3 linked regions of the Homo sapiens genome follow. The protein of the gene in region 1 interacts with the protein of each later gene in a pairwise test. Each region holds a gene or a part of one and is shown in the gene's direction. Other genes may lie near its edges. The genes, in order: SPANXN2, EPB41L3 and KRCC1.

What was found.
Region 2: the proteins of SPANXN2 (region 1) and EPB41L3 interact in binary tests that used the Homo sapiens proteins (3 or more experiments, as listed by UniProt).
Region 3: the proteins of SPANXN2 (region 1) and KRCC1 interact in binary tests that used the Homo sapiens proteins (3 or more experiments, as listed by UniProt).

The regions. Positions count from the first base shown.
Region 1 is NC_000023.11:143,718,459-143,722,299, reverse strand, and holds the start of SPANXN2 (sperm protein associated with the nucleus on the X chromosome N2), read left to right. Parts: upstream 1-1,547; 5' UTR 1,548-1,631; coding exon 1,632-1,709; intron 1,710-3,841.
Region 2 is NC_000018.10:5,533,856-5,537,596, reverse strand, and holds part of EPB41L3 (band 4.1-like protein 3), read left to right. Parts: intron 1-3,741. UniProt on the Homo sapiens protein: Tumor suppressor that inhibits cell proliferation and promotes apoptosis. Modulates the activity of protein arginine N-methyltransferases, including PRMT3 and PRMT5.
Region 3 is NC_000002.12:88,029,245-88,031,783, reverse strand, and holds part of KRCC1 (lysine-rich coiled-coil protein 1), read left to right. Parts: intron 1-2,539.

The DNA.
Region 1 (3,841 bases):
CAATAGTAAAATCTTCAATACACTACCACATTACACTATCAAAACTAGAACATTGACAGTGATGCAATCCAGAGCTTTTTAAGATTCAACACTTTTCTTTTGACTATTCTAGGCACTTTATATTTCCATAGGAATATTATAATTATCTTGTCAATTTCTATTAAAAAGGCTTTTTAGAATTTTGATTAGAATTTAGTTGAATCCACAGATGAAATTGGAAATAACTGCCATTTTACAATATTGAATCTTCCAACCGAAAATCAAAGTATAGATCTCAATTTTTTTCTTATGTCATTAATTTATCATTGTAAATTTTTGTAGTTTTAAGTGTACAAGTCATTTACATCTTTGGTCAGATTTATCCCTAAGCCTTTAATATTTTTAGTGATATTTTAAATTGCACTGTTCTTAGTTTCAACTTTCAGTTGTTGAAATTAACTTCCAGTCCACCCTAGGACTACCATTGGCTAAAACATTGTCTCTTCTAATATAGAAACTTCTCATATGTAACTGCTAATATATAAACATACAATTGATTTGTGTGTTGATCTCTTACTTTGCAATTTTGCTAACCTCAATTAATGTAGAACCATTTTTTTAGATTGACTTTTCTACATATACTCTCAGGTAGTCTTTGACAAAAGATACTTTTACTTCTCCCTTTCCAATCTGAATGCATTTTTTTTTCTTTTACACTGGACACAATCTCCAGTACAAAGTATAACTGTGCCCATACTGGTGCACATGTGGGTCTTAGATTGTAGCATCCTGCAGGTAAATACTCAGAACAACTTCCAGCACTTGAATATCCACTCCTTCCCCCACCCACATACTGGCAGAATTCATGTTGGGATACTACATTTACTATGAACATAGACCCCTGATTTGAAACAAGACTAGGATACATGGTAAAGAAAGTTTATTCACCAAAGTTTTGACAGACTGAAGGCCATTATTTCAGATTGGAGATAGGAAACTTAAAAGAACTACATGGACATTGGGTAAAAGAACATGGGTTGAAATTTGCCTGGCAGTAGCCTAAAAGTAAATGGTCTTCAAGGTGCATGTGAAGGAACTGTAGGAGGGAAATGGGATAATTCACATCTCCACCAATAATTAAATGTAGCCACACTAGCTTGGAGGGATTTGAGGTGAGACATCTAAAATACTAAGTCATGGTGAGGGCTGGAAGACAAAAGAATGAATGACTTCATAGGAATGACTGTGGGGAAGGGCTTGAAGGAATCATCCTCTCACTTCCATGTGAACCATGAACATTAAACATGGAGAAATGAGCAGCAGCAGATTAGTTTGGGATGCATCTTCAGGGGATGCTGAAACAACAACAGCATTTGGTTTCCTCTACACCCCTGTCATCCGTCCCCCACAAGCCCAGGGAGTGGTCAGCAGTGGTGCTTTGTGATGTCTAAGCCACCCTAGGACTGCCATTGGCTGGGACACTGCCTGTATGATCAAACAAAGCTCAAGAGTGTGGCTTTGCCTTGCCACCAGGAAGGTATACATAGGGAGGGCCAGAGCTCTGGGACATCCTCCTGGCAAGCTTCAATATAGCTGTGGAAGTCTGCAGTCTACAAGAGCCTACTATAGACATTCTACAACCAAGCAGAATCATGGAACAGCCGACTTCAAGCACCAATGGGGAGAAGAGGAAGAGCCCCTGTGAATCCAATAACAAAAAAAATGATGAGGTAAGATTGTTAGGTTTTGAAGGGAAGGTGAGGGTGAAAGAAAGACACACAGAGAAGGGACGGCTCAAACAGCAACACAGGAATACTGCAGACACCTGTGGAAGTGGGGGACCCGCTTAATGCCAGAACCCACCGCCGCTTACAGGCTGGGGTGCTTATAGGTATGGGTGGGAGGGGCCGGGGCAGTATGGCTTGCTGCCCGGCAGGATATTGATAAGATGTTTTTATGATCAGGCTGTTTGGTCCTTTTTCCAGTGGGATGTCATTGTGGTGTTTCTTGGAACTTTGCCCAGCAAGATACCATAGGAAAGTTTCTTTAGTTGGACCTGTGTCCGCCTTGTGTTACGACGATTAGGCAAGATTTTTCTCATGGCCCGAACCCCCGTGGAATGTTTCACTTTGATCAAGGTCTGCAAAATAGCAGGGTGCTTACTAAATGGTGGTTTGGACTCACATTCTTGCCTTCTACTTTAGTATAAAAGGAAGAGGGGCATTGTTGATTATCTGGCTGCTTGCTGCCGAATAGGGGAGCTGTAATCAGGGTTTGGGTTTTGAAGCAGGGGGTGACGGACTTCAGAGTTGTTTTCCTGGAGGCACTGGTACCGGACTTGGCAGAGGAGAAGGATGGTATCAATGTGTTGCTGGGTGGCTGCCTGGAGAGGGGAGTTTAGCCTTCGGGAGATAAAGCAGGATATGAAGGTGAGTATACATCGGCCAAATGTACTATCAGGAGGAGGAAGATTAACGGCCCTAAGAAAGGGACCACCTGCTATCCCAGTGCTGAGTGCATCAGAGATGTTTAGTTCTGCTAACACTAGAATGAGATGTACAGCCTGCTTAGTGTGTGTGGAGGAAGATGAGACAGAAGCTACTAAAGGAACCTGGATGGTCTGCTTGTTAGGCAAAGTGTTAATGTTTAGATTGAAACACAAGGGTGCATGTTCCTGACCAATTGGCCAGTAGGCAGAGATAAGAGTTTGTGCCGCAAAGGAAGAAGACACTAGGGGTGGACAGACAAAAGTTGTAGGTTATGGTGGCAAGTCATGAGAAGGTGGGGGTTGAATTCTGCACAAACCCTTTGTTTTAACTTTTATGTTTTTCCAAGTTGAATACCTGCCAGCAAGGGTAGCCCCTCTGAAGGCCTGATAGGAAATGTTGGTAGTGGAGGAGGTGAAGGCTGTTTGGTTTTGGAGAGAGAGCAGGAAATGGGTTTTTGTAACTAATAGCCATTGCGGTCCTGACAGCGCAGAAGGATACAGGTTGCAGTTGAGGGAATTGTTTGTGGATATTTTCCAGGGAGCGCCCTTGACTTGGATACATGGAGAGCGGCTCCGGCAGAAAGGGGAGGGGTTGATAAGAGGTATTTTCTGGAATCCGACTGGTAACATGTTTAGTTAAGAGGCTATGAGGTGAAGGAGGGTGACAGCCCTGTGTGTGACGGTGTGGGTGGATTTGATGGATTGGTGGGGGGGGAAAGGTGATTAGCCGAGCAAGATTATAAGCAGGTTTTGCGAATGAATTGGTCAATTAGGTGAAATGCAGGTTTATTTTGGACAGGGTTCATGTGGCCAGGTTAACAGGAAGGGCTGTGAACTACTGGATTTGTGTGGACAAACAAATTTAACAGTTGGAAGGAAGAGGGGAGTGTGACTGATTTAAGAGGCAGTGAGGCTGATGAAGGGGGCTCATCTGTTAGACGTTCGGGGTGGGGACTTAGAATATCCCACAGATAGAGAGGACAAAAGGAGAAAGAGGAGATTTGAGTAGGAGTGAAATTTTGGAAGGTGCCCTGAAGTCATATCTCCTTGATTAGTGTGACAAATTGGCCTGGACTATTCAGGGTCATGGGGAAGGGAAACCAGGAAAGATCTGAAATAAAGTAGGAGACAAAAGATTGGAAACTGGAGACAGAGAGTGTTATGGACTAAGGTGTTCTGGATTGGCAACTTCTGGAATTCTTGTTAAGTACAGTGAGGTTGGTCTTGTCAGGGAAGGAGAATAATTTGGGGGTGAACAAATTTCTAGATGTGGATCTGGTGCTCTTTTTAGTTTGAAATGTGCATTCAGTGTGCAAAGGATGTTAGCTTTGGCGCTGTGGGAGTAGTTAGCATCACCTGGTGAGAATTCCTCCA
Region 2 (3,741 bases), on another chromosome or scaffold:
CTTTGCTAGGTAGTGGGGAGTTATTGAAAGTGGTTGAGTAGGGAAGAAGAATATTTTTTCTGGTGATAAGTGTAGGATGAGTTGGAAGAATAGGAATCTGGAGACAGATGGTCTTTAGTTAATGGAGTTATCCAAAATTTTGCAGAAATTGAATGTGATGTTTTTTTCTCTCAATGATTGATATTTTGGCAATTCATTCCATCTTTTTGTGGGAGTATTTAACTGAGGATTAAATACTACTTTTGGATTGTTTAAGGTAGAAAATGAGATATACGAAATATGGGAAGATTTTCCTTATCCTTTCAATGAATGTATCTCAGTTATTTGAGATATTAAAAATAATACATTCTCACTTTAAAATATAGTCTAACAATACAGAAAAACCAAAAAAGGCAATGTCATTATCTACCTTTCTGAATGTATTACGTATCAGAGTGGAATAGGACACACCTGGGTTGGGCTCTCGGCCTTGCTATTTAATAACTATGTGGCATGGTTCTTTTAACTTCCTAGAGCCTGTTTGCTCGTTTATAAAATGGGCATAATGCTTATATCTGAAGGATATGAGGATTAAATGATGTAATACATGCAAACACTGAGCACAGTATCTGGTATATCACAAGTGCTTCATAAATAGCAGTAGCATCATTTTGTACATATACAGACTCATATGTAGATTACATAATATTTTACATGAATAGACTTCTGTCTTAAATACTTCTATGTAACCATTTTTTGTTTGTTTGTTTCGTTTGTTTGTTTTTTGAGAACAGAGTCTCACTCTGTTGCCCAGGCTGGAGTGCAGTGGCACGATATCAGCTCACAGCAACCTCTGCCTCCCGGGTTCAAGTGAGCCTCCCAGGTTCAAGCGAGTCTCCTGCCTCAGCCTCCCAAGTAGCTGGGATTATAGGCAACCGCCACCCTGCCCAGCTATTTTTTTTTTTTTTGAATTTTTAGTAGACATGGGGTTTTACCACGTTGGCAAGGCTGGTCTCGAATGATCCTGACCTCAAATGATCTGCCCGCCTTGGCCTCCCAAAGTGCTGGGATTACAGGTGTGAGCCACCGCACCAGGCCAAATTTTTTTTTTTTTTAAATGTAACAGTATGTCTCGGAGGAGCTTTTTCATGCATGCAAATCTATACCCACATCATTATTTTTAATGGTAAATAAATATTTTCTTTTGGTCTTGTGCAATATTGATAAAGGATCATTACCTTAATGATGGTGTTGATGTGAAGCCTTGTTGTCCAGCCCCTCTGCCTCCTTCTGCTTGCTGCCTACACTTCATGACTCTCTTCTAATATACACATCAGGAGGCTTGTGGTAAAACAGGATATTTAAAAAAATTAAAATCTCTGATGATTATTATGTATATCTCAATGTTGTGTGTGAATATTGAGTTCTAACAAACTAAAACAAGCAAATTTTCACCATAGATTTCCTGACTTTTTTAAATTTAGATTTTAATGTCATCTCTTTATAGAGGGGCGAGCTCATCCAGCAAAGCCTAACCTGAGTTCCTGGGTGCCCATCATTCTCCCATGTGCCTCTTGGCATGCCTCGAGGGACAGCAGATGCAGCAGTCTGGACCTGAACTAGACTCTCCAGAATCAAAATATCCAGGGTCTGGGATAGTTTAGTAGGTGTACGGGGTCACTGGGCTCCCAGAGATGGAAAATATTAAGCTTCCTTTGATCTCTCTCTGAGTTCCCAACCCTTCCTTCGTCCTCAACAACAGAATGGTAACAAATGTCATATTCCATTCACAGATTTTATGCCACCTCGTCAGGGATGTGGGCTGCTCTGTTATGTTATTCACAATCCCATGATTTTGACTGATCTTGGATTTACTTGGAATCCAGTCTTCATTCACCAATTTGGGGAGAATAGCTTTATGATCCTGAAGGTGGTGCTAGCTGGAATGGTGCACCCAGGCTTCTGTGAGATGATGCCATCGGGGCATCTAGAGGTCTCAGGCTGGCCCGGACAGTTGCATATTTCTACGTAATTTTTTCCTAGAGTTACTAACATCCCAGAGATATAGGGAGTTTTGGGTAGTTTCATTACAGAGAATTATTCTTGATGAATTTTGGTGTTTTATACCATTTTGTGCTACTCAGTGACAACTTTTATTAACTTTAGAAGGAATATGCTTACTGGCTAAGTATAAGACTTGGAAAATAGAGATTGACTAGGTTGTCTGCTCAAGAAGTCTGGAAAACTTTTCCTCTGAATTCTTGAAATGAGAGCAGTAATTCATTGGGGGGAGTTATATTGTAGAACAGGGGTCCCCAACCTTTTTAGCACCAAGGACCTCCATTTTGCTTACCTCCTGCTGTGTGGCCCTGTCCTTGGCACAGAGGTTGGGGTTTCATGGAAGACAGTTTTTCCATGGACGGGGGTTGTGGGGGATGGTTTCAGGAAGAAACTGTTCCACTTCACATCATCAGATTCTCAGAAGGAATGCACAACCTAGATCCCTCACGTGTGCGGTTCACATTCTCACATTCTCACTCAAGAATGTGAATCAAATGCCACTTCTGATCTGACAGGAGGCGGAGATCAGGTGGTAATGCTGACTCACCCACCGCTCACCACCACTGTCCTTGGCCCAGTGGTGGGGAATCCTTGTTGCAGAATAAAGAAAATACAAAGAGCTAGAGAAGATACAGATGGAAACATCTGCTAACCTTGAGCTAGGTAACTGTGGGAGGAGTACTCTATTTCTCTAGGCAAGGTTCCCCAGAGTGAACAGATGACGATGCTGCCTACCTCCAGGTTGAAATGAGATCTGTGTTTGAAGACATCTAGAACCAGTCTAATGAGAGTATACACATAGTACATGTTTTCTCATTTCAGTAGTATATGCTGTTGTCCTCTTTGCTTGTTTTTAGGGACATGTCTTAGTAATTGTAAGATCCAAAGATGACCCTCAGGATGAGTGTAGAATTTTGTGACATTCCACCACAAAACCCGTAATCCAAAAGATGGCCCTCTATGAGAATGCAGAATTTTTTGAGTATGAAACTCCAGATAACAGTAGAGGTTTGCAAAGAATGAGACACAGTGGTTATACAACAGAATTACCTGATGAGTTTATTAAAAAGGAATTTTTGGGGACCAATCCACGGATTATCATCTAATAGATCTGCAGTTGGATCCAGACCTCCTTATGTCCCGACAAGTACTTTGGTGAAATCTGATCCAGGTGGTCCCAGGACCACATTTTGAGACACACTGTCTTAACGACTTTTGTCTTAATGACTTTCCAGCTTCTTCACTATTGTCAAATGAGCGTTTAACCTGGAAAGAAGATATAATATAAATAAATAGTACTAAGGTTGAAGAAAATGTTTAGCATAGAGCAAAGAAACCTGGCCTTGGACTCAGAATGCTTGGGTTTCTTTTTTTCTTTCTTTTTTCTTTTTTTTGAGACGGAGTCTCGCTCTGTCACCCAGGCTGGAGTGCAGTGGCGAGATCTCGGCTCACTGCCAGCTCCGCCTCCCAGGTTCATGCCATTCTCCTGCCTCAGACTCCCAAGGAGCTGGGACTACAGGCGCCCGCCACCACGCCTTGCTAATTTTTTGTATTTTAGTGGAGACGGGGTTTCACTGTGTTAGCCAGGCTGGTCTCGATCTCCTGACTTTGCGATCTGCCCATCTCAGCCTCCCAAAGTGCTGGGATTACAGGCGTCAGCCACGGCGCCCGGCCTTGGGTTTCTTTATGGCTGGTCCATAA
Region 3 (2,539 bases), on another chromosome or scaffold:
AAACTTTTAAATTTTTTTAACTTTTTGACTATTTTGTAATCACACTTAGGTTAAAACACATTGTCCAGCTGCACAAAAATATTTTATTTCTTTATATCTTTATCCTAGCCTTTTCCTATTTTATTCTTAACTTTTTTTTTATTTTTATTTTTTTATTTTTTTGAGATGGAGTCTCACTCTGTTGCCCAGGCTGGAGTGCAGTGGCACGATCTCGGCTCACCGCAACCTCTGCCTCCTAGGTTCAGGCGATTCTCCAGCCTCAGCCTCCCAAGCAGCTGGGATTACAGACATGCGCCACCATGCCCAGCTAATTTTTGTATTTTTAGTAGAGTCGGGGTTTCACGATATTGGCCAGGCTGGTCTCGAACTCCTGACCTCAAGTGATCCACCCACCTGGCCTCCCAAAGTTCTGGGATTACAGGCATGGGCCACCACACCTGGCCCTATTTTTTTTTTTCACTTGTTAAACTTTTTTATGAAAAGCTAAGACACAAACACACACATTAGCCTAAGCCTTCACAGGGTTCAGGATCATCATCACTGTCTTCTCCCTCCACATCTTGTCCCACTGGGGGGTCTTCAGGGGCAGTAACATGCATGGAGCTGTCATCACCTATGGTGCCATCTTCTGGAATACCTTCTGAAGGACCTTCCTGAGGCTGTTTTACAGTTAACTTTTTTTTTTAATAAGGAGAAAGAATATACTCTAAAATAATTTAAAATATAGTATAGTAAATAAATCATAAACCAGTTATCAAATCTTATGTACTGTACATAGTGTATGCTATACTTTTATATGGCAGTATAGTAGATTCGTTTATACCAGCATCACTACAAACACATGAATAATGAATTGTGCATTATTCACATTACTGTGACTTTTTCAGCTCCACTATAATTTTATGGGACCACCATCATATATTCAGTCCATTGTTGACCAAAAGATTATTATGCAGTGCATGACTGTATCTCCTTTTCCTTTAAGGAAATACCTAGAAGTAGAATAACTGCATCATATGGGGTAAATGTATGTTTAACTTCTTAAGAAACTGCCAAACTGTTTTTCAAGTGGTTGTACCATTTTACATTCCTATCAACAATATTTGAGAGTTCCAGATCCTTATCAGCACTGGTATTGTCAATCTTTTTCATTTTAATCATTCTGGTAAGTGCATAGTGGTATCTCATTGTGGTTTTAATTCACATTTACTTGCTGATCAGTGCTTTTAAACATCTTTTCATGTGCTTATTGGCCATTTGCATATATTCTTTTCTGAAGTATAGGTTAAAATAGTTTGCCCATATTTAAGCAAGTATTTGTTACATTATTTTTTATTATTTTTCTAGTCAGAATTTGTATACTATTTAAGTTGAACAAGAACTATATTTTCTAACTTGCCAAATTAGGCTTCATTTAGATTTTCTTTTTAACCTCAAATTTCCAAATTTGAAAAACTGGCTGATCATTAGTCTCAAAAAATTAGGAGGGAGTATATCCCATGTTGAACTGAACATTTCTTCCCTTTAGCAGAAACAAGCCTTGTTTCTGAGAGCTGAAGAAATGTTCAGTTCTACATGGGATATATGCCCTCCTAATTTTTTGAGATAAACTGTATCACCAAAAATATATAGGGCAGGTGGGACACAGTGGCTCACACCTGTAATCCCAGCACTTTGGGAGGCCGAGGCAGGCAGATCACCTGAGGTCAGGAGTTGGAGACCAGCCTGGCCAACATGGTGAAACCGCATCTCTACTAAAAATACAAAAATTAGCCAGGCGTGGTGGTGTGCACCTGTAGTCTTAACTACTCAGGAGGCTGAGGCAGGAGAATCACTTGAACCCTGGAGGCGGAGGTTGCAGTGAGACGAGATCGTGCCATTGAACTCCAGCCTGGGTGATAGGGCAAGACTCCATCTCAAAAAAAAAAATATATATATATATATTTTTTTATATATATATAATATTATAATTTCATAGTAAGTACATTTTCTGCTATATTTGTATTTATTCAGGATTTGAGGTGAGGAAAAGAATCAGGAACAGTCTTGCCCTTCCCCCCAAAAAAGAATCAAGCAAACAAAAATGGTGTATCTACTGCAAGTTTCTTCTGAAACTCTTCTCCAAATCAGTCCTATCCCTTTTCAGTTTTCACCCCTGTTTCTTCCCTTATTCCTCTCACCAGTACTTTAAGAGAGAACAAACCAGAAGACATTCTAGAATGCTTTTTTCACCAATCAGAAGTAGTGGAATGAAATCCAAGCCTACACAGAAGATACAGAACTCTGTGCTTTCATCTTCCCTCATACCTGATACCTAAAAGTAGTTTTCATCTTATAACTGAATTTCTGATTTTCAGCATTCCCAATCAATTTTATAAACATCCTTTTATTGTTAAGTCTTACAGTACTCTCGTCAGGTGAGTACGTTTATTTTATCTTGAGTAAACTGAAGATTTTAAAAATCAAATTCTGTATCTGTGGTTCCTTTACTTCTCTTAGAAACTAATATACAGGAAACCAATTCATGAGAACTTCAGAA